2 separate regions of the Homo sapiens genome follow, and region 1 is linked to region 2. The links come from fine-mapping of genetic effects on gene expression. A gene starts in region 2. The other region holds a variant in brackets. All regions are shown on one strand. Distances are between the middles of the regions. Region 1 overlaps LOC124904169 (a long non-coding RNA gene). Region 2 holds the start of KLF17 (KLF transcription factor 17).

What was found. PIP is the estimated chance that this variant, and not a neighbour inherited with it, causes the effect. A credible set is the group of variants that fine-mapping cannot tell apart.
Region 1: its variant is the best candidate, but not a certain one, in a credible set for the expression of KLF17 in fibroblasts (GTEx, PIP 0.62).

What each region holds. Positions count from the first base shown.
Region 1 is chr1:44,045,619-44,055,394 of GRCh38, reverse strand. The region is part of intron 2 of LOC124904169 (a long non-coding RNA gene); the gene reads left to right. It also overlaps a transcript of KLF17 not described here. Among named protein-coding and RNA genes, the nearest start is that of SLC6A9, 19 kb to the right of the region's middle. The variant C/T (reference allele first, on the strand shown) is at 5,622.
Region 2 is chr1:44,114,608-44,124,383 of GRCh38, reverse strand. It overlaps KLF17 (KLF transcription factor 17), which reads right to left and starts at 5,563. Exons shown (of 4, transcript NM_173484.4): 1 at 5,396-5,563. The coding sequence starts at 5,476. It also overlaps the pseudogene RN7SL479P and the pseudogene LOC100129492. RefSeq lists an enhancer at 4,250-5,017 and a promoter at 5,586-6,574.

The DNA.
Region 1 (9,776 bases), 69 kb after region 2:
ATCTCCTAATTTTTGGCTGGCCATCAATCCCTGTTACTGTACAAGAGCAGGAAGACAGAGGCCCTGAGAAATGGGTTACAACTGAGTAGGCTGCTCCCATGTCCATTAAGAACCCAGTATTTTTGCCTGCCGTGTCCAGGGTTACCAAAGACTCCTCTATGGAGATGGTAAGGTGTCCAGTAGGAGTTGTAGAGGACCGCAGGCCCCATCAGTCCTATGCTTTCTTGGCCATTATGGATCTGGGTGTCTCAGACTCCCCTTTAAGCCTGGGACAGTCCTTCTTCCAGTAGCCTTCTTGTTTACAGAAGGCACACTGGGCCAGGCATGGTGGCTTATACCTGTAATCCCAGCACTTTGGGAGGCTGAGGCGGGTGGATCACGAGGTCAGGAGATCAAGACCATCCTGGCTAACACAGTGAAACCCTGTCTCTACTAAAAATACAAAAAATTAGCCAGGTGTGGTGGCACACACCTGTAGTCCCAGCTACTTGGGAGGCTGAGGCAGGAGAATTGCTTGAACCCAGGAGGCAGAGGTTGCAGTAAGCCAAGATCAGGCCACTGCATTCCAGCCTGGGTGACAGAGTAAGACTCCGTCTCAAAAAAAAAAAAAAAAAAGCTGGGCACGGTGGCTCACGCTTGTAATCCCAGCACTCTGGGAGGCCAAGGCGGGTGGATCATGAGGTCAGGAGACTGAGACCATCCTGGCTAACACGGTGAAACCCCGTCTCTATTAAAAATACAAAAAAATTAGCCGGTCATGGTGGTGAGCGCCTGTAGTCCCAGCTACTTGGGAGGCTGCGGCAGGAGAATGGCATGAACCCGGGAGGTGGAGCTTGCAGTGAGCTGAGATCACACCACTGCACTCCAGCCCGGGCGACAGAGCAAGACTCTGTCTCAAAAAAAAAAAAAAAAAAAAGGCACACTGATTTGATTTTTGCCTAGAGTCCAGCAAGTGGTGGGACTCTCATCTAAGCATCCCAGACACTGATCTTCCCATATTTTCCTGGGGTGGGTAACCCTGAAGCAGCAGAGGGCCTAAAGCAGCCACTAACAATTGTGATTTTTTGGCCAACTTTTTGGCTTTTGCCTCTTCCTCTGCCTTGTCCCTGTTGTTGTAAACCCTAAAAGCAACGTCTAAGGGTTGGCTCATGGGGGCCCCATTGCTACCTTTTGTAGCTTCCTCCTGATGTCAGGGGCAGATTGAGTGATAAAATGCACACCCAGGAGAACCCACCCTTCTGGGGAGTCTGGGTCTGCATTAGCATATTTCCTGAGTGCCCCAAGAAAACGGCCCTGAAATAGAGCAGGGTTTTCATCTTTGTCCTGAGTTATTTCTCTCACCTTGTCATAACTGACTGGCTTAAGCACACACTTTTTCATGTTAAACAAATTAGCCTGTGATTTCTGCATTTAAGATCTTGAGAACCTGTCTAGTAATCCAATTGAGAGCCTAGATCTGGAATTGCATCTCCTCCCACACGATATGGCATGGCCTGGGTTGGGTGGCTACTCCATCTGCATGTTCACGGACAGTATCTAGAATTCTTTGTTTTTCCTCTACAGTACAACAAGTGGATAGTAATATTTGCATGTCATGCCAAGTTAAATCAAAGAATACGCTCAACTTAACAAACTCCTCTGTAAACTTCCCAGGATCCTCTAAAACACAACCAAATTTTTCCTTGCATAAAGCCAAATCAAACATGAAAAAGGCACATATCTTGTGGTTGTTCCTCCATGCCTGTCAGCTACCTCTCACAATGGACACAGGTCTAATTTTGGCAGCTGATATGGGGCCCAACTCCTGGTAGTACTGGTTGGGTTTACTTCCTCCGGCAGTAGGGGATATGGGCCAGGACCTGTTGGATAAAGGGGAGGGATGCCTGCTGACTTTGAGGTGGAATTCTGCACTAGAGAAGTGGTGTCCTCCCCCCCCAGAACTAGGGGACTGGAGAGGCTTCAAAGTGGGGACACAGGCCTCATGGGGGAACAGCTAAGAGAAGGTCATCTACAATACCTGATGTGCTTCTGGGTGGCTGGGAGTATCATAAGCCAGACATGTTCTACAGCTAGCCCTTAAGATCCTGGTAGATGGCCAGAAAAGCCTGCACATAAGGGACTTCTTCCCATTTTCCTTCCTTTTTACAAAACAAATTCTAATTGTACAATATCATTATAACATAAAGAATCATGAGGCCGGGTGCAGTGGCTCACATCTGTAATCCTAGCACTTTGAGAGGCCAAGGCAGGCAGATCACTTGAGGTTAGGAGTTCGAGACCAGCCTGGCCAACATGGTGAAACCCCATCTCTACTAAAAATACAAAAAATTAGTTGGTCATGGTAGCCTGCGCCTGTAATCCCAGCTACTTGGGAGGCTGAGGCAGGAGAATCGCTTGAACCAGGAGGCAGAGGTTGTGGCAAGTCGAGATCTTGCCGCTGCACTCCAGCCTGTGCAACAGAGTAAGACTGTCTCAAAAAAAAAAAAAAAAATCCTGCCTAGGCCACATCTGTTGGCTTGCCAATTTATATAGAACCTAAACATTGTTGCAACAGAAAATAAATTTTTTCTTTTTCAATTTGTCTAATTTGAATTTACTCCAATTGCCTAAAAGACACCCTCACGTCAAGTCCTTCAGGATGCTCTCTGCTGCCCCATGTCTAGTAAGGCTCTCTATGGGGGTTTTAGTGACCTAAGCTTAGCAAATGCCTAGTTACTTTTCCCTTTTAAATTCCCACTTTGTACAAAGAAGGTGTAAATATAGACAGCAAGGTGTTATAAAAGTGGATTATAAGCTGCAAATGGGAAACAGAATGTTGGCCTAAATTCCACAGAGAGTGAGGGTTAGGCAGAGAGAGACTAAACAAATGGTGACAGTGGAAGGGAAGAAGGGCAGGGGTAAATAGCATTGCCCAAGGGGAGACCTCAGGGGCCCTCACTGCCAGAGAACCTACCCAGTAGGAGAGACACCAAAAACAACGTTCAGGTGGCCACTTTTCTACTGCTGTTGGTGGCTGTCCATCAGGGGCCTGGGAACTCCCAGTCCCCTTCAACCAAGAGGGCTTAAGCAAGACAGTTATGCAGTTGTAAGACAGCACACAGGAAGAGGTCTGCAACTGGCTATTAGGAAAATAATAACTTCTAACTTCAGAGCAGAAAAAGGCAAGACCAAGATTCCCCTAGGGGAGAAATAGCTTTTTCTACCTTACCTGAGGATTGAGGTCTCCAAGAGTGAAGATGACAGGTAATGCCTAAGGCTCAGGAAGCCTGCTGGGTCACTTTAGCTGTGAAGGAGGTTCTGTTATCACTGAGCAGACTTCTAGGTAACCCAAACCTTGCAATGATCTCTTTAAGTAAGAATTTGGACACTTCTAATGCCTTTTTCTGTTCCTGTGGGGAAAGCCTCTATCCACTCAATGAAAGAGGGAATGTCAATGCCGAAAACCCCAGAGCATTTTCAGCAATACCAATGCTGAAAAACCTGGAGTACCTGAGTTTCAGCCAACAAGGGTCCCCTCACCAAATGCTGAAAACCCCAGGGCACCAGGGGGTTGGCCAACAGCAAACCTCAGGCCAAGTTGGAGGTCACAGAACAACACAACAGGAGGCCTTGCATGGCCAAGTGTCCTGCCTTAAATCATTCCCCAAATTTAGTCAACAGAAAATCAAAATGAAAACAAAGACTGCCAACAAAACATACATCTTAGGACTGAAAATAAAACGACTGGTGGAGCAATACAATGGAGTCAGAGGGGAAACAATCAGGGAAAAGGGTGACAAGGACAAGGAAGTGTTTAAGGGTATCCAAATGATGAGGGACTTTTAACTGACCTCTTAGCCAAAGGCTTTAATTCCTGAGCTTACCTGATGTTATTGGGGTGGGGGTGGGCAAAACACTCACCCATCCACAGGAGTCAAAATGGTGCTGGCCAATCTTCCACGTGGCACCCAGGTGAAGGTCTCTTCAGGATCCCCCAGCTTGGATGTGCTCAGCTGCCATGGTGGGAGGGTCCCACGTGAGGACTGATAACCCACCAGCCTGCCGGATCCTACATGAGGCAGTAGCAGTATGGCCACTTACTTGCCTGTCTGCTTGGCTGTACCACCTGCCAGGGAAAACGATGATTCTAAAAAGAGCCTTTGGTTAGTGTTACAACTCTTGCAGCCTCCATCACTGACTGCTTCTCTATTTCTTGCCATCTCTCCATTTGTCATCTTAACAATAACTGTCACTTGCCATCTCTTGCTGTCTCTCACTGTCTTGCCAACTGCTGTCTCTCATTACCACCTTGCCAACTGGCCATTTCTTTCTCCGTCTCTCATGCTGTCGTTTTCTCTCTTCTGCCGCATGTTTGGTGCCATGTTGCTGCAAGGCAGGTGAACCCCAAATTGGGGCTTAGCCCAAGAAGATTCTTGGTTTTGCTCGGGAAAGAATTGAAGAGTGAGCTGGTGGTAGAAGAAAACAGGATTTTTTTTTTTAAGACGGAGTCTCGCTCTGTCGCCCAGGCTGGGGTGTAATGGTGCGATCTCAGCTCACTGCAACCTCCGCCTCCCAGGTTCAAGCAATCCTCATGCCTCAGCCTGCTGAGTAGCTGGGATTACAGGTGCACACCACCACGCCTGGCTAATTTTTGTATTTTTAGTAGAGACAGAGTTTCACCATATTAGCCAGGCTGGTCTCAAACTCCTGACCTCAAGTGATCTGCCCACCTTGGCTTCCCAAAGTGGTGGGATTATAGGTGTGAGCCACTGTGGCCGGCCAAGAAAACAGCTTTATTGAGGAGGCAGTGTAGTGTTAGGGATCTGTGACTGCTCCTGCACAGCAGGGCTACCCCATAGGCAGTGTGTAGAGAGTAGCAGCTCAGGGCAGCTCGGCAGTCATGTTTATGCCCACTTTTAAGTACATGCAAATTAGGGGTGGATTATGCAAAAATTTCTAGAACAAGGGTGGTAACTTCCCAGTTGTTGGGTCACTGCCATAGAAAGGGGTGGTATCCAGTTGTTGCCATGGCAATAGTAAACTGACATGGCACTGGTCAGCATGTCTTTTGGAGAGGTGCTTTTGCCTCTTCCCCTTTCAGCTAGTCTCAATCTGGTCCGGAGTCCAAGTCCTGCCTCCTACCTCATTGGCAGTGGTGTGCTGGTAATTATTTTACAACTGGTTAAGAAAGAAACTCTGATTTGTAAAAGTTGCCAATTTCTGTGGTGTAAATAACTTTTATCATTGCTGAACTCACACATTGCTGGTGGCAGCATAAATTGGTAAAACCACTTTATAAAACCATGCGATGCTATCTACTAAAGGTGAAGATATGCATATGCCAGGAGACAGTAACTGTACTCCAAGATGTACAGTATTTCTCAACTTAACCGGACATCCTGAATCACCCCAGGCATGAATCCAATTCTGTTGGGAGAGTTACTGGCTATGCATTCTTTTCCTACTTAAGTCACCTTAGTCTACTCCAAAAGATACACATTATTTGAAACTGAAAAGCTAAAATGGATAAATTATTATATATTCATGCAATGGAATAGTATACCACAATGGAAATGAACATGCTACTATACATAACAGCACAGATAAACCTTATAGATTGAAAACAATACATAGGCCGGGTA[C/T]GGCGGCTCACGCTGGTAATTCCAACCCTTTGGGAGGCCAAGGTGGGTGGATTTTCTGAGTCCAGGAGTTAAAGACCAGCCTGGACCACCTGGTGAAACCCCATCCCTACAAACAATACAAAAATTAGCCAGGCATGGTGGCACATGCCTGTAGTCCCAGCTATTCAGGAGGCTGAGCTCAGAGGATTGCTTGACCCTGGGAAGCAGAGGTTGCAGTGAACTGAGATCGTGCTACTGCACTCCAGCCTGGGTGACAGAGTGAGACCTTCTCTCAAAAAGAAAAGAATATATACTGTATAATTCTAACTATATGAAATTCAAAAACAGGCAAAACTCTATGTGGTTAGAAGTTAAGCTAGTGGTCACCTTGGGGAGGGCAGAGGGCTGGGATTGGGAGGTAGCACAAGAGAGGCATCTTTACTGGATGGTTATTATTATGAACTAAATGTTGTGTGCCCCCCAAATTCATGCACTGAGTCCCTAATCCCAAATGTGGTGGGATTAGGAGACGGGGTCGTTGGGAAGAAATTAGGTTTAGATGCGGTGATGAGGGTAGGGTCCTCATGATGGGATTAGTGCCCTTATAAGAAGAGACCAGAGAGCTTGCTCATGCTCTCTCTACACTGTGAAGACACAGTGAGAAGGCAGTCATCTACAAGCCAGGAAGAGAGCCCTCACCAGAACCCAACCCCGCCAGCACCTTGATCTTGGACTTCCCAGGCTCCAGAATTGTGAGAAATAAATGTCTGTTGTTTAAGCCACCCAGTCTGTGGCATTTTGCTATAGCAGCCCCAGCAGACTAAGACAGTTATGTTTACACAAATGTGTTCAAGTTGTGGTGACGCATTAAGCTATATGCTTATGATTAATGCATTTTTCTGCACGAATGATTTACTCCAATAAAAAGCTTATTAAACCCAATGCACTGTGTACACACATAAAAACAAAGAAAACTAATCATTATCAAACTAAATCAACTTTGCAACACCTCTAATTTGTAGATAAATCTTACTGTGTTCAAAAATTAAGCAAATTACACTGTGGCCAGTCAAACACACAGAAAATTTCACCAAGAGAAACTTAGGTTAATAATAAAACAATTTATTTATGTACTTAGGAGATCCCATCCAAACATAAAGAATATTTTCTAAAGCCCCAAATATTCATTTGTAACCAACTAGCTTAAAACCCAGTCATATCAAAGAAAGTCTCCAGCTCAAAACACAAAAAGAGTGCAGTACCTTCTCCAAAGAAGAAAAACACACATTTTAAGACAAAAATACTCACCATTAAGCAGAAACCTCTGACTCATCTGTTCTTATCTTCCTTCCCATAAAGCCCTTTTATTTCCCCACTCTGACAAAAGCGTCCTTTTAGCTCACTGTGGGGAGGAAGTCTCACAGTCTTCGGTCTGCTCTGAGTGAATGAAGGGGATCAGTGGAATCAGTATTTCCCAGCTTAACTGGACATCCTGAATCACCCCAGGCACGAATCCAGTTCTGTTGGGAGAGTTACTGGCTATGCGTTCTTTTCCTACTTAAGTCACCTTAGTCTACTCCAAAAGAATCGGAAAGTTCCTACCTCCAAGCTTTGGTTTTCTCACATTTTTTCATCTCTCTGGGCCATTGCCATTAGCTACTCCCACATTTTGCCTCTGTAACCGTTTCCTTGACTTCTGCATGGTGAAGTTAGGAGAAGCTACACAGCCCCCAACACATACGTGCGTGCACGTGCACACACACACACACACACACACACACACACACACACATACACACACAATGTTCTCTTATGGGCCCACTCTCCAAACACTCTGGATGCCAATCTTCCCTTTTCTGGATTCAGCCCACCTTTATTGGCCACATCCAGTAAATAATACTATGTAAATTCACAAAGTGTCCACTAGAGGACACTACAATCCTACTTCTAATGCCAATGTGTTGCAGTATGGCGTCTGTAGACTCCTAAGGGATTCTTCCTCTTCCCTATCTAAGCTACCCATGTGTTTCTATCTAATTATTCCTTGTACCAGGCACCTAAGAAGGAAATAGGTGATATGAACAAGGAAGGAAGTAGCACCCCGACTCGTGCCCTCATTCTCAAATCCTTGGTCCCAGGGCAGGATGCTCTCACGATCTAAGCATTCTTTCCCTCAAGATGGATGTGACTGATGGCAGATGGGCTACTAGTGATGTTGATGTCACTGTGCCGGGTCCCCAGCAATGCTCCAGGGGAAGCCAAGAGTTGAACTGGGCCTCAGATCATCAACCAAACCTCAAGCATTTATCAACCATGGCAGCCCCATCTCATGACCAGGCTGGAGCCTGTCTGGACCTGGTTCTTCTGGTTCCCACCATCTGTCCTCCTCCTCCCTCCCTACCACACCACCCTTTACCCCAGGACCAGTGCTTACGGTTCTCTCTCCTCAAAGTCATCAGATCAAAATTCATGACCAACCTCTCATTAGCCCACTCAGAGGAATGGGTGGCTCAATGCTATGAGTACAATTGCTCCATCTTAGGAAAACAAAAATGGGCAACCCTTTGCAAAGAAAACATTTCTATGACCAAAGCTTACTGACTAATACAACATTACTTCTTCTTGTACATTTTAAAATAAAAACAAGCATATCTAAACATAATATTTTCTAATCACAGGAGGCAACAACAACAAAGTAAGCATAAATACTTTCAAGGACATGTCTGTAGCCTAGTACAGAGAATGCTTTTTTTTTTTTTTTTTTTTTTGAGACTGAGTCTTGCTCTGTTGTCTAGGCTGGAGTGCAGTGGCACGATCTCGCTCGGCTCACTGCAGCCTCCGCCTCCCTGGTTCAAGCGATTCTCCTGCCTCAGCCTCCTGAGTAGCTGGGATTACAGGTGCACACCATCACACCTAGCTAATTTTTGTATTTTTAGTAGAGACCAGGTTTCACCATATTGCCCAGGCTGGTCTTGAACTCCTGACCTCAAGTGATGCAGCTGCCTCTCGGCCTCCCAATGTGCTGGGATTACAGGCGTGAGCCACTGTACCCAGCTAAGAATGCATATTTTTAAGCCAGACTGCCTCAGATCAGATTCTAGATTTGCTATTTACTAGCCACATGGACTTGAACCAGTTACTTAACCTCTGCACATCCATTTCCTGAGCTGTTAAAATGAAGAACATATAGTATCTACTTCATAGGATTGTTGTGAAGATTAGATGAGTGTGTGTGTGTGTGTGTGTGTGTGTGTGAGTGTGTGTGTAGTGCTTAGGTTGGGCGTGGCAGACCATGCCTGTAATTGCAGTACTTTGGGAGGCCAAGGAAGAGGACTGCTTGAGCCCAGGAGTTCACGACTAGCCTAGGCAACTCCAGCAGACCCCGTCTCTACAAATAAAATTTTAAAAAATTAGCCAGGCGTAGTGGCATGCACCTGTAGTCCCAGCTACTTGCAAGGCTGAGGCAGGAGAATCACTTGAGTCCAGGAGGTCAAGGCTGCAGTGAGCCGTGATTGCCCCCACAACACTCCAGCCTGGGGGACAGAATAATGAGACTCTGTCTCAAAAAAAAAAAAAAAGTGCTTAGAACTGGCCTGGTACTAGTAAGTACCCAATGAATGTATGATAGCTATTATTATTATTATTATTATTATTATTATTATTATCCTTTACCAAATCTTGTGGATGAATTCTTCATACACAGGCTGACATCTGTTTTATTTTTCTTATGTTCCATGATAAGCTCATCCTAAATAGAATATTAAGAAATATTAAGAAAACGTCTACATACACCAAGACTGGGTGACAATGATTGTGTTAGGAGGGTCTGGAGGGCACAGATCTGACACACTACCTAGTGACAACATTGAGTTATGTGCAGCTTAGTTATGTGTGATATGTGTGATTCTGTGTTGCTGATGGTGGTGTCTAGAGAACATTGGATGCAAATGACTGTGGGAGGGACACATTCTGGATGAAAATGGGCTCAGGGCTAAACTGGGGTCAAATAGTTTGGGGATAACACTGGGTTGTGTGTGAAAGTATGTTGAGAAAGCATTTGAGTGAAATAGTGTTGTGGGTAAGACCAGGCCTGGATAAAACAAAGTTTTTGTGACAATGGTGTTGGGCAGTGGGTGCTGGCAACTGTTTAACTATTGCCTCTTCAAGAAAAACAAG
Region 2 (9,776 bases):
CACTCCAGCCTGGGCAACACAGCGAGACTCTGTCTCAAAAAAAAAAAAAGAATATATACAAAAGGAAATTGTGTTTTAAGGAAATGTATTTTCACTACAAAAAAAAAAATCAAACAAAAAGACAATGCTGGAAATGAGGAAAAGAATGGCAGAATTAAATCATTCCTTGAAAGTAAAATACTTTGGAAAGTAAATGGATAATACTTTCCAAAAGACAATTTGGCAGAATGGATTAAAAACATGATCCAAATATATGCTGTATATATATTTAGATCCAAACACCACAATAAACCAAGTAGATCTAACAGACATACACAGAACACTCCACTCAACAATAGAATATCCATTCTTCGAAAGTGTTCATGGGACATTCTTCAGAAGACCATATAGTAGATCACAAATTAAGTCTCAATAGATTTCAAAATAAACTTTTCTCTTGCCGCTTTTAGAAAAAAATAAAAAAAAAAAGGTATCATACAAAGTATCTTCTCTGACCCACAACCAGATAAACTAGAAAATTTACAAATCTGTGTGGAAATTAAATAGCACTCTCTGAAACAATCAATGGGTCAAATAAAAAAATCACAATGAAAATTAGAAAATACTTAGAGACCAATAAAAATGAAAACATAACTATCAAAACTAATGGGATAGATACAGCAAAAGCAGTCATAAGGGGAAAACCTACTGGTTTAAATGCTTTCAGTAAAAAAGATCTCAAACCAACAACCTAACTTTATACCTTAAGGAACTAGAAAAATACACTAAACCCCAAACCAGCAGAAGAAAGGAATGAAAAAAATCAATGAAACTAAAAGTTCTTAGGAAAGATTAACAACATTGCCAAACACTTAGCTAGATCAACTAAGGAAAAAGAAAAGACTCAAATGATTGAACATGAGAAATGAAATCGGGGACATTATTACCAATTTTACAGAAGTAAAAAGGATTATAATACAATATTATGAAAAATTGCACACCAACAAATTGGACAACCTGGATAAAATGGACAAATTCCTAGAAACACAAAACCTATCAAGACTGTTACAGGCTGAGCATTTTGAGACTACGAAGCAGGTGGATCGCTTGAGGCCAGGAGTTCGAGACCAGCCAGGGCAACATGGTGAGACCCCCCATTTCTACAAAAAAACCCTAAAAATTGCCAGGTATAGTGGCAAGTGTCTGTAGTCCCAGCTACTCCAGAGGCTGAGATGTGAATGGTGCGATCAATCATGGTTCATTTTGGGCTGGAATACAGTGGTATGATCATGGCTCACTGCAGCCTCACGTGACAAAAGCTCAGCTCTTATCCTAACTTTGAAGATTGCTAATAGAAGTGAATAAATTAAGCATTTATTCTGCCTCTAAAAGAAAAAAAAATTCAAAATTACCAAATAATTGCAGTTAAATATTACTTCCTACTTTACAGAAGAATACAAACTAATAAATGTAGAATGAATGGTGGAATTAGAAAATTTATTTTGCTGCCAGGTGCAGTGGCTCATGCCTGTAATTCTAGTACTTTGGGAGGCCAAGGGGGGTGGATCACTTGAGGTCAGGAGTTCAAGACCAGCCTGGCCAACATGGCAAAACCCTGTCTCTACTAAAAATACAAAAAAGTAGCCGGGCGTGGTGGTGCATGCCTGTAATCCCAGCTACTCGGGAGGCTGAGGCATGAGAATCGCTTGAATTTGGGAGGCAGAAGTTGCAGCAGTGAGCCAAGATCGTGCCACTGCACTCCAGCCTGGGGGAGAGAGTGAGACTCTATCTCAAAAAAAAAACCAAAAACGGCCATTCATACTGCAGTCGGTCAGTATTCGGTTGTTGGATTCAGTGTGCTATCGGACCCAAAGGGTGATGGCACCGCTAGGATGAAGCTCGTGAGATTTTTGATGAAATTGAGTCATGAAACTGTAACCATTGCATTGAAGAACAGAACACAGGTCCATGGAACAGTCACAGGTGTGGATGTCAGCATGAATACACATCTTAAAGCTGTGAAAATGACCCCGAAGAACAGAGAACCTGTACAGCTGGAAACGCTGAGTATTCGAGGAAATAACATTCGGTATTTTATTCTACTAGACAGTTTACCTCTGGATACACTACTTGTGGATGTTGAACCTAAGGTGAAATCTAAGAAAAGGGAAGCTGTTGCAGGAAGAGGCAGAGGCAGAGGAAGAGGAAGAGGACGTGGCCGTGGCAGAGGAAGAGGGGGTCCTAGGCGATAATGTCTCTCAGGATTACTGTTTCAAAGTCATACGGGATTTGGGATATTTTTTGTACAGGTTGTGTTTATGTCAGTTTTTAATAAACATAAAAGTGGGACAAAAAAATGAAAAAAGGAAAAGACATAAAGGAAAAGGAAATTTATTTTGCCATCCCTAAGGAAATTTAATTGAGGAAAAATTTAAATTTGGTGTTAAAACCAGTAGGTGAATGGCTGGTAGGGAACTGGACACTGGATACACAAAAGGCAGAATCACACAGATTACTTTCTGACCACAAGGTAAATTTCTACAGAGAGATCAATGAGGCTTTTCGCTACCTTAATACAAGTATCACCAAATGGTAGCCAGATGTGTCTCCTGATGTAATGCAAGATGAAACCTACCATACACATGAGGCATTCTTGCCAAAAATCTTGAATCCAGTTAAGCTGTAAGATCTAATCATAACTTAAAGGTAATACAAGTGATAGAAGATAAAGCTAAATGTTATCATGAGGAAGCAATCTGATATATCGGAAAGGAACATTCTATAAGACAAAAGTTAGCATCATGAAAAACTGAATCCCAATCATGAAAAAATAAAACTATTCTAATTTCAGAGACTCAAGGGACATAATCACCAGATACAGTGTATGGTCTTAAATTCTGGTTTGGACGTACCAGCTACGAAGTACATTTTAGGAATAGCTAGGGGCATTTGAATAAGGCTTGCATCTAAGATAATTTAAAGGAATTATCGGCTGGGCGTGGCGGCTCATGCCTGTAATCCCACCTCTTTGGGAGGCTGAGGCGGGTAGATCATTTGAGGGCAGAAGATTGAGACCAGCCTGACAAACATAGCAAAATCCCGCTACTAAAATTACAAAAAATTAGCTGGGTGGAGTGGCACACGCCTGTAATCCCAGCTACTTGGGAGGCTGAGGCACGAGAATTGCTTGAACCTGGGAAGCGGAGGTTTCAGTGAGCTGAGATGGTGCCACTGCACCCCAGCCTGGACAACAGCACCAAGACCCTGTCTCAAAAGAAAGTGTATATATATATACAATTTTGATACGTTTGATTATGTGGTTTTGGCTATAGAGAAAAATGTTCATTTTTTAAAAAAAACTCTAGAAGAGTTGGGAAGATCTTGTTTTATTTTTTATTTAATTAATTTTAGAGACAGGATCTCACTATGTTGCCCAGGCTGAAGTGCAGTGGCTATGCCCAGGTGTGATCGTTGTGGACCACAGCCTAAAACTCCTGAGCTCAAACGAGCCTTCTGCTTCAGCCTCCTGGGCTGCTGGGACTACAGGTGTGAGCCACCATGCCCAGCCTTATCTGTTTTATTTACCACTATATGCTCAGCAACTAGCATAAGACAGACATATAATAGGAACTAGGTAAATGACTATTGGGTGGGCACCTCTGGGGTGCTCAGCCTCTCCTCCCTAACTCTCAGCAATGGCCCTCTTGTTTTCCCAGTCCTTCATGGCAAATTAAGTTGTCTAAACATGCCTTCACCACTACTTTGCCTTATGAGTCTCCCAAATTTGCTCTGGCCTCTATCTCTCCACAGAACCAGCTTTCATAAAGGTCACCACTGATGACTTCCATCCCACTATGACCAAGCAGCACTTTCCAGACTCCTCGCTTGAACTCTCAGGAGCTTATACGACCACTGGCCACACCCTTCTTAGAATGCTTGGCCTCTCTAACACGCATGGCCACACTTTCCAAGTTTTTCTCCTTCCCTTCTCTCAGACCCCCTCCTTCACAGTTTCTTTTGCAGATTTCCCTTTCCCTGCTCTCTCTGGGCAAGCTTCCCCATGCCAGTGGTTTTGTTTCTGTTTACAGTCCAACTATTCCTAAATCTGGAATCTTCGCTCTGGCGAAGATGGCTCCTGAATTTTCCAGCTACCTATTGTTTGAGTCCTTTCGGATGGCCCACATGCTCTTCTAATGGACTATGGCCAAAATTCACTAGCATCTTTGCCCACCTCCCTCAAACAACAAATTAATCTTGTCCTTCTCATCCTTCACTCTCTCTCAGAAAATGTCACTATTGTCACCCAATTGTGCAAGCAAGAAATCTGTTACTCTAGATGTCTCCCTCACCACCCGGGGACCAATGATTGTGGTCTCTGCCTCCAAAACATCTCCACAATCTATGATATATTTAGCTTCTCCATCTCCACTCTCACTTCTGCAGGTAGGCCGCCATTTGAATTCTCACCTGGATTATCACAAAAGCTTTCTAACTGTTGCCTTGAATCCAGCCCACATCCACCAGGGCACTCCTTTGAAAATGCAAATCTAATTGAGACAGATTATGTTTAAACTCATCAATGGCTTCCCACTGTTCTTGGAATAAACAAGCCCTGAATGATCTCAATGGTGTCCCTGGGGCCACCCTTCCATCACTGTCTAGGCCCTGGTCTTTCAGTTCCTCCTAAGAGGAAGCATGCAGCCTGTGGTCTCAGACCTGGGAACCTTTCACCTGACGGGTTCTTTAGTCCCAGAACAGAGTCTCAGCTGTCTCCTAAGCCTCCCAAATCGGGTCAAACACCTCTGGTATCTGCTCCCACGCGCCCCTGACTTCTTCTTCATGTAACGCTGTACAATTCCAATCATTCAGTTAACGATTTATTCATACAATTTTATATATATCTGTTTCATGGTAAATTCATCATTGTATTTCCAGGGTCTGGGAAAAGCCTACCACTTAGTAGGGCTCCAATTAACATTTTTGGGGTTTTTTTTTTTTTTCCTGTTGTTTCCTGCTCACTTCCTAACTTGGTCTTTGCTGTCCTGCCTACTCAAGTCCCTCACCAGAAAGTTGCCTAGAACCCTCTTACCCGCCACGCGGCCAACACAAGCTCTACTGCTGGGCGAACATTGTTGGAATAAACGACGTATGATTTACACCCTCAATCTCACAACCCTCCCTTTCCAATCCCTCCCCAGTCTCCCATCCCTCCCTTTGCAACCCCTCCCCAATCTCCCATCCCTCCCTTTGCAACCCCTCCCCAATCTCCCATTCCTTCCTTTGCCACCCCTCCCCTCGGATTTCTACCCCTCGGGTTTCTGCTTCCCTCCGCCTCACCTCTCCTCCAAGGCCTCCCCTCCCCGCCGCCCCCTAGCCTGGGCCCGCCCGGCCTGCCAGGGGCTGGCACCTGACTCACCTGGGCAGCCTGGTGCGCCGCCTGCCACCGGCTCAGCTCCCCAGCCTCCTGTTCCATCTCAGCCTGCGGTCGGCCGTACATGAAGACTGGGTGGGGTCTAGACTCTCTACTGAAGAGACAGGGAACCAGCCACCACGGCGTCGCAGGCGGGTATCGGTACATCGCCACGCCACAATCACCTTCTATTTACCTATTTACAGCTGCGCCAAGGGGCGGGGTCAGGCCCCACCCGTCCCGCCCTGCGCCGCCCTCGCAGCCCTGCCCCAGGCTGCCACCCACCCTCACCATGCCCCAACCAAGGCAGCCTCACGGACAGCCAGCCACTTCAGGCCTTGAACGCTTCTTAAAGGAATTTGGTCCGCCCACCCAACCGACCCATTCCACCCCTCAGTCTGAGCAACTGTTTCACCCAAGTGGGGACTGAGGACACCCAGGTCTCCAACTCCAGCCAGGAGGAGGCTGGAGAGAGAGGCGAGGCTGGAGAGAGAGGCAAGGTTGGGTGTAGGGCCTCTACCGATAGGAGAGCCTCCACCAGCACTCTCTCAGGTCGGGATCTTGCCATAAGCTTTGGAAGGGCTGGAGCTTTTCTGCTACAGTCTGTGCACCTCTGTCCCTTGTCTGTACGAACTGAAGACTGGGAGCTTCATGGCACAACCTGTTTATTCCGCAGTGTTTACTGAGTGCCCCGTGTGTGTTGGGCACTGATCTCTGAACTAGGGGTAAAATAGTAAACAGGACAGAACAAAGTCCTTGCTGTCAATTTCCATCTTATACGGGAAGACAAGAAATGAGTAATAAAGTTGTTAACTATTATAATTTTAGGTGGTGGTGAGTGCTATGGAAAACCAAAACAGAAATGTGAGCTGAAAATGAAATGCCTGAAAGGAGCCAGCCATAGGAAGATTGAAGGGCTCTAAGGCAAAAAAGAGCCCAACGGTGCTAGAAGGAAATTGAAGGCAAGGTGACCACGGTGATACCACATGGACAGTGACACGAGGACAGAGGGATAGGGCCTTGAAGACCATAGAAAGGAATTTGGATTTTATTCTAAGTGTGGCGGGAAGCCACTGATGCTTTTAAACAGGAATTTGATGTGATCTGATATATGTTTTTAAAATAAACCATTTGGCTCCTTATGGATTATAAAGGGCCAGAGGGGTGCAGAGACACCAGTTAGAAATCTAAAGGAGATGAGGCTGGGCGCAGTGGTTCACGCCTGCAACGCCAGCACTTTGGGAGGCTGAGGCGGGCAGATCACTTGAGGTCAGGAGTTTGAGACCAGCCTGGCCAACATGGTGAAACCCCGTCTCTACTAAAAATAAAAAATTAGCCAGGCGTGGTGGCGCGTGCCTGTAATCCCAGCTACTCAGGAGGCTGAGGCAGGAGAATCGCTTGAATCCGGGTGGTGGAGGTTCCAGTGTGTCGAGATCGCGCCATTGCACTCCAGCCTGGGCAACAAGAGCAAAATTCCGTCTCAAAAAATAAAATAAAATAAAATATAAAATAAAATAAAATAAAATAAATAAAATAAAATAAAATAAAATAAAATAAATAAAAAAGGAGCTGTCCAAGAAAGAGATGTCAGTGTTTGGTCATGGAGGTGGTGCCCACCTGTAGTCCCAGCTACTCAGGAGGCTGAGGCGGGAGACCACTTGAGCCCAGGAGGTCTGGGCTGCAGTGTGCTGTGCTGATTGGGTGTCCACACTAAGTTCAGCATCAGTATGGTGAGCTCCCAGGAGTGGGGCACCACCAGGTTGCCTAAGGAGGGATGAACTGGCCCAGGTCAGAAATAGAGTAGGTCAAAACTCCTATGCTGATTGGTAATGGGATTACTACACCTGTGAATGGCCAGTGCACTCCAACCTTGGCAACATAGTGAGATCCCATCTCTAAAAAAAAAGAATGAAAAACAGAATTTGTAATGGATCAGAAGGGGGTAGGGAGGGAGGGAAAGAGGAATCAAAAAGGCTCCTAGATTATTGGCTTGAGCAACTGCATGATGATCGTGCCACTTGGTATATGGAAAGATAGGAAGAGGAGCAGATTTGGAGGCAACTGAAACAAGAATTCCATTTTAGACACTGATTTTGAGATGTCTATTAATTATGCTCAGAGAAGGTCAGGGCTGTAAATGTAAACTTGGGTGTTGTCAGCATAGAGATGGTAGTTAGAAGGCCATTAGAGTGGATGCTATCAACACTGGAGATAGTTTGACAACAGGACAGAGGACAGAGCCTGGGGACTCCTACATTTAAGGCCCAGCAGAACAGCAAAGTCATCCAAAGAACCTGAGAGGTTGAAATAAACAGGTAAGTGACTACTGGATTTGGCAAGACGGAGGTCACTGGTGACTCTGACAAAACCAAGTGCAGTAGAAAGGAAGCCTGATTGGACTGGGCTGCCAAGGGAAGAGGAGTTGATGGAGTGGGACATTATCTCTAAACTCTAAACAAGAAGTTTTGCTACGAATGAGAGCAGAAAAATGAGGTGGCAGTTAAGGGAGGGCATGTTATAGGCTGATGGGGATGCACCAAAGGAGAAACTGATATAGAAACAGAGGGCTCAATTATAAGAGCAAAGTCATGGATGAATCAAGAAAGGACAGGATCTGGAGTACCAATAGACAAGTGGGCCTTTAGTGAGAGCAGGGACATTTGCTCTATCATAACAAGTGGGGTAAGAAGGCTCTTATGTATCTTAGGGTCCCCAACTACTAGTATGGAGTGGGGCTGAGAGCAGGCCCTTGAGAAATGGTGGCTATGATTCTATGGCTAACAATGGCTCAGCTCTCAACTCCAGGATCACCTCCTCCTGGGGCCATCTCTGACTCCCATTTGATGCCTCTTTCAGTTCCCACATACCTAGTGTTTCTCCCAACATGGCATTTAGGAAATATTTGTAGAATGGATCATGTTTGACACACAGAGCAGATCATTTTTATACCCCCCTCCTCTAAAAATAAAATTATTTCCATAATTCAAATTTCATATTTTCAAATCATCATAAAATGAAACAAATCATAATAATGGCCAGAAAAAGGAAAGGCAAAAGTGAAAAATTTATTTGCCAAAATTTGTATGCATACTCACATCATAAAATAAATACATAAAATTAATATTATGGCTCCAAAAAATGAAAAAGGCACAACTATTTATTTCAATCATTTTCACATCTACCTGTTTAAATTTTGATCCTTTCTTTACAATCTGATATACTCCCTTATGTAAATGGTCATCCAGCAACCAACAAGCAAATTTTAATAAAACCAAAGCATCTAAATAAGATACAATTTAGGCAATAATACTTAGGCTATAACATTTATTTCCTTTATTCATCTTTCATTTTAAAACCATTAACAAGTATAAAGGAATAGGTTTTCATTTCAAAGGTAAATTTTTATTCAAATTCAGTAACATATTTCATGTACAAATTAAAAATTTGCACTTAACAAACAAAAATGTTTTGCCTCTCAGTTTGCACTCTGTCCCACTGGTTTTTGTTTTTTTTTTGTTTTGGTTTTTTTTTTTTTTTTTTTTTTGACACAGAGTCTCGCTCCATTGCCCAGGCTAGAGTGCAGTGGCGCGATCTCGGCTCACTGCAAGCTCCGCCTCCCGGGTTCATGCCATTCTCCTGCCTCAGCCTCCCAAGTAGCTGTGACTACAGGCGCCTGCCACCACTCTTGGCTAATTTTTTTGTGTGTGTGTATTTGTAGTAGAGACGGGGTTTCACTGTGTTAGCCAGGATGGTCTCGATCTCCTGACCTCATGATCCGCCCACCTCGGCATCCCAAAGTGTTGGGATTACAGGCATGAGCCACCGCGCCTGGCCTGTCCCACTGTTTTAACACAAAAGTCCAACTGGTTACATAGAATGACAGAATTGAAAAAAGTCAAGCCCTGTTTGTCTTTGTCATCACTGACAGTAACTCATGATTGTTTATTCTGAATCTACAGTGTAAACTTGGATGTGTCTAATACCACAGGGGTAGGAGATGTGACCCTTGCCTAAAGTGAGCTCCAAAGATGGGTATTGGTGTGACTATATAACCAAGCATTCTCCAAATGAACTTCCACATAGAATGCAATATTTATTAAAGGATCGCTAATAAAAATGTGTTAGTGTGAAGTTTACATGTACAAATAAAATTCAGTATCTACAGCAATTATTTAGAACTTAAACCAACAAAAGATTTTTTAGGAGAGGAGTATTTCAACAGTATTTAAAAATCACTGGCACACAGCAATAATAAAAGGCAGACCAACTTTTAGTTGGATCTATTATTGTTAAGCTCTTTATAGATATGCACCCCTTCTAGCCTGCATGTGGACAGACTGCTACCACCGCCCACTTTAATATGCCAAGGGGCCCCAAGTCTTCTTGA